Linked DNA regions of Homo sapiens: region 2 is linked to region 1. The links come from fine-mapping of genetic effects on gene expression. Tissue or cell type: tibial nerve. Region 1 holds a variant in brackets; the other region holds the start of a gene. All regions are shown on one strand. Distances are between the middles of the regions.

Evidence for each region. PIP is the estimated chance that this variant, and not a neighbour inherited with it, causes the effect.
Region 2: KCNA4 starts here. The variant in region 1 is the best candidate, but not a certain one, in a credible set for the expression of KCNA4 in tibial nerve (GTEx, PIP 0.88).

The regions. Positions count from the first base shown.
Region 1 is chr11:29,779,598-29,782,274 of GRCh38, forward strand. No RefSeq gene overlaps it. Among named protein-coding and RNA genes, the nearest start is that of LINC02546, 190 kb to the left of the region's middle. The variant C/A (reference allele first, on the strand shown) is at 1,377.
Region 2 is chr11:30,015,489-30,018,165 of GRCh38, forward strand. KCNA4 (potassium voltage-gated channel subfamily A member 4) reads right to left here and starts at 1,542. Exons shown (of 2, transcript NM_002233.4): 1 at 1,084-1,542.

The sequences.
Region 1 (2,677 bases):
GGTTTCATCCATGGCAAGAGAAACTGTTACCTGGAAGGGAGAAGTGAGAAAGACAGCCTTGCTACGGATCAGCAGATTTTACAGCTTCATGTGTGGCAAGTTTGTTGACATCAACACTATTGACATGTTGGACCAGAAATTATTGTGAGGGCTGTCCTGTGCATCCTAGAACATCTAGCCACCTCCCTGGCCTCTACCCACTACATGCCAGTGGTACCTCTTCTCCGTTGTGACAAACAAAAACATTTCCAGACATTGCCAAATGTCCCCTGTTGGCAGAATCTCTCCCAGTTGAAAAGCAGTTTTCCTGTCACAGGAAACTCATCTCAAACTGAGTGCAGCACAAAAGGAGCTAATTGATTTCTATGATGAAAAAGTTTAGGCATGGAACCTGCCTCAAGAACAGCTGGATCCAGAGGCTTAGATGATATGACTTAGGCTCTGTTCCTTTCCCTCTTCCTAAATCCTTTAGTGTTAGCTCCATTTTCATGCAGACTATCTAGATAAGATTATTGCCAAAAATTCTAAAATTACATCTTTCATTTTAGAAATAAAAAAAAAAAATCCTTCAAGCTGGGCAGTCATCCCAGCCACTTGGGAGGCTGAGGTGGGAAGATCGCTTGAGGCTGGGGGGCTGAGGTGAGCCTCCAAGTGAGCTATGATCATGCCACTGCACTCTAGCCTGGGCAAGAGAATGAAACCCTGTCTCTGGAAAAAAAAAAATCTCAGTTCTTCAGTATTAACATTTCAGTCTGATTTGAGTCTCCGGCCCATGCTTGAACTGGCCAATGTAGTAGTTACATGACATATGCTAATATGGCTTGGGTCTGGGTTATGAGCCTTCCCTAAAGGGGTGTGGGGATAGTCTTTACCAAACCCGTGAATCAAGAATAAGAGTGGGATGTGTTTCTAAAGCAAACTTGGATCTAGTACTACCAAAAGGTGGGGATGGGGAGTGGAGGTTGGATACAAAAACTAAGGTTGGCCTCTGCAGGTGACCTTTCCCCAGGGTGCATCTGGCTTGCATTCCTTTCATGCTAAAAAGGAGGCAAGGCTGGCTTCTCAAGCTTCATCCAGACCCCAGGCCCCCTCATTAAGAAATATTAGTCACAAAGCCTTGGAGAATCAATAACACTGAGGAATTGAGACAGCACATAATTCATCCCCTTGGAAACTTTTCAAAAATATTATCTTGCTGATGCAGAGGAGGATTTCTTTACCTACTATAAATTAGGGGGAAAAAAAGAAAAAAAAAAGACAGAAGAAAAAATCTGAGCTGCCTGACAATTATCCTCAGTGTGCATCACTCACATTGCAATCACACCCACACGCTGTGCCAGCACTCCAGCTACCACAGGCACGCACGCGCCCAGCAC[C/A]CTCAGCCACCCTCTCACACACCTACCCCCTCAGAGTCAGCCCACCAGGCTGACAATCACACTGGCAACTTAGCGCCACCAAAGCCTTCTTCTCCCACACACCGCCATTTCCTAGGTTACCAGCTCCCCAGTGCCGAAGGGGCTACAGAAACAGGAAGGAAATGCCCCACAGACATGCAACAAACCCAGCTGCACAGCAAACATGGTTTTGGCAGGTGGAGAAAACCTTCTAACAAACCTTCCCAGAGAGTTAGCTGCAGGTGAAGATCCTGCCCCTGGTAATTCCTACCAGTCTCCTTTCCAAAGTATGAGATGCCAGAAGCACTGGCTAGATTTCAGTAACCAGTTTGGGCCCCCTAAGCATGGGCCATGCTTGCCTGTGCCTGAGCTAAAAGACAAACTGAATGCAGGCATTACTGGGAGAGATGAGCAGCGTATGAGGAGGAGGAGAATGGAGACAGTGCCAGGAATTCCAAAGAGCAGTCCTCCCCCAGGGAGCTGGGTGCCAGGCTCTGTGGGATGGGCAAGAGACATAAATAGCATTCTCCTGGATCCCTGTGGGGCCAGTAGTGGGTGGGCAGCTGGAACCCTCTGTGACCCAGTTAGAAGAAAGCTTTCTGGGGCTGGGACCTGGCCATCTGTACAATGAATAGAATAACTGTGAAGGTATTATTTCCCCAACTGTAAAATGATGATAGCAGTATTTAATTTCTCCCTCAGAGTAGTGTTTTGAGGATTCACTGAAGTAATATATACAGAGTGCATTTGGCAGTGCCTGGCTTAGAGTAAAAGCTCAATAAATATTAGCTAATAAGTTGCATGGTAGACAGAAAATAATACATACCTCCATTCAAAACCTAATTCTAGCACTTACTTGCCTAACCCAACCTCTAGCATCTTCTCTGAGCTTCAATTTCCTCAACTGTCAAATACTTATTCCATGTGGTTTCTATAAAAATGTACCATGCAATCTATGTGAAATTTCCTTAGCTCTATGCCTCGTAACTAATATTTCATAGGTAGCTAGTAATGTTGTCATTATCATCAATACTGCCATCAACCTTTGTACTTTTTCTCTAACAAAACATTATTACATTCAGCATCTTTACTTTCCTTGATACAATCCTATGTAGTATGTAGACATATAGGACAGGTTTTACCTCCATTTTCCATATTAGAAAATTGAGTCCCAGAGAGATTCAATAACTTGTCCATATCAAACCAATTAGGAAGGGGAAGTTGGGATACATGTGGTTTTTGGAATCCTAAGATGATGTTCAGTATATTTTGCCACTATACCT
Region 2 (2,677 bases), 240 kb after region 1:
GTTCTAGAACTGCCCTCTTTCTGCTCTACACCAAATAATTTCACATTTATTTATTTATTTGGGATTGTTAGTTTTTGTTTATCTAACTCCCTCCTCCACCCTACAAGTAGCAAATTGCCTTCCTTTTAATCATCTACTAGTTACTTCACTATCCCTGATCTAGAAAGAAAGGGAGAGAGAAAGAAAAGAAGAGAAAAGAAAAATCATTCCTCCCAGCAAATCAGACTGGTTTAAAATCTCTCTTCTTTCTCAAGGTACTCTTGTTAGGAGAATCTATTCAAGCCAATTCCCAGGAGCCTTTATGAGAGAGATCTTTGCAGAGGAATTTGTCTTCTTCTTTAACACCATTAAACTAATAGGATTTTGCAGACTACCTATTCCCCAATCCCGGCGCCCCCAAACAACAGCCAAGCATCCCGCCCCTCCTCCTCTCACCCCTCCAACAACAAGGCTGTTCGTCTCTCAGTGCTAATTCCTGCAACTGTGTCACTGTCAGGGTGGTACCTGAACCTTAGAGAGAGAGAGAGAGAGAAAGAGAGAGAAACTGAGAGAGGGAATCAGAAAAGCCACCACCGTGAGAAATATACACTTCAACGCACGCCATTTATGCAGCCCCTATGTATGTTGCTCAAATGCTCGGAAAATGCACGCAAATCCAAACGTTGGAAGAGGCAGCAATTCAGACCCGTTCACCGGCTGTTCCCAAAAGAAGGGAACCGGTGCGGCTGGGAGGAGGCGAAACGATGCTAAATCTTAACCCCCCTCTCGTTGGGAAACGACATCTTTAATCGCGCCCTCGCCTCCAGACCTCGGTTCCCGCTCCAGCACGTTAAGCAGGGCGCACTCACCGCATCCCCGGGTTTGGGAAAATAACAACTGTTGGCCCCCCGGAGCGCCGCGCAGCATCCGCACCTCCCTTCTCCCACCTCCTGGTTTATTTTTAACCGCCTTCCATTCATGCCCTTCTGTCACATTCCCGATATTATTTATCCCTCAAATGTCCACTGTTTCTTAACAGCCAAAATAAGAAGGTAGAGGAAAGATACAAAAAAAAAAAAAAAAAAAAAAAGGTATCATACTTACCGTTCCCCGGCGGGGCGAAAAATAAAAATAAAGAAAATCCACCGGCTGGCTTGTTTTTCCCCCTCAAGCTGCAACAGCTGGAGGAGGGGAAGAATGATCCTGGGTGGGGGGCGGGGGGTGGTAAAAGGAATCACTCGGGTTTGGCAGGTGGAGGCTCCAAATATCCACGGAACAAGTTCTGTTGCCTGGCCCGAGGGGTGCACAGAGTCCTCGCGGCTGGAGCCTGGGGGTGGGGGTTGGGGCTGCCCCAGAGAAGACCCCAAGACTCCTGGTTCCTCTGGAGTTCAGCACAGGAGGGATTGCCTGGGAAAGGAAGTCAAGGTTCCCCCGAAAAGAAACAAAATCCTAGACAGCAGCGATCACTTGTTAAGCCCGAATTCCTCCTCCAACATCCATCCCTCTCTCGCTCTCGCTGGCTGCGGGAGCAGCACACGCCTCCCCTGGCCGCGAACGCGCTCTGGGCGGGGGCGGGGCCAGGGCCGAACCGAGGGTGTGGCGTTCGCGACGGTCGCCAGGGGCGCCTCCCGGCGCGGCGGGGCGGGTGCAGTCACGACGCCGCGACTCCCCGCACCCCGGCTGGGCCCCCCGACTCCCAGGATCTGGGATCGATTCCAGGAGTCTTTGGCTGTGGTCCCCACAGGCGAGGAGCAAATCCTGGAGAAGTGTCCCCGTTGGGGCCGGAATAGGGGTTTCGACGGCAGCGCGGGAGTCCCCAGAGGGCTTGGGAGCGGGGAGCTCCAATGGGAGGTGCAGTCCCGAAAATGGGGTCCTCTGGGACATCTCCTCTACCTAACTTGCTTTCTCTATATCTCCCCTCGAGCCCCGAGCCCCGTCTTCTTTTCCCCACCCCATCCCCTCCCAAAGCGGGTTTGTTGGGTTGGGAGCCGGGTGCATCTCCGGCGAGGCCACGGGCGGGGAGCCCTCCTGTGCCTGCCAGAGCGCCCAGATCCCTCAGTCTCCGTCTCCTTTGCACACAGGAGTTGGGAGGCTTCAGCGCCGGGGTTGGGCCTCAGGGGCGCGGAGGAGACCGACTTTCAACCTGTATTCAATCCCGGGCAGGGGAATGTTACAGAAATTGGAATCAGGCCCAGGCTAGGGGCTGCGCACAGGAGGCAGCAGTTCTAGGGGAGGAGGGTTGGAGAGATGAGTAAGTTGCAGGGTGGGCCAGGGGCTGAGGGCTTTGGAAGGCGGGGGAAGAGCCCGCAGCCAACCTGTTGCTGCAAAAACAAATACGGCTCTGGTATCGACTCCCTGAGGGCTCTTTGGATCCTTCAGGACAGAAATCAAGGGATATCGCAGCAAAAAGCAAGTTTTTTTGGTTTTCTTTCTTTCTTTCTTTTAATTAAAGCTTGTGCGCACAAGGGAGCTAACACCAAGAAAAAAAAAAGTGGGCTGTTCCTCGAAGTCAGGGTGTGGGTTTCTTTTACGGGCCTCTCCCGTAAGGGGAAATAAGGAGAACTATAGACAGGGCATGTAGAGGTGGAGTTTTTCTGGTGCATGCATGGTGGTTTAACATGCTTCTTCATAGGACGTATGTATCATTAGCATCTTAAATCTCCACCTCTGGGAAAGATTTTTTGCATTAAATTAAGGA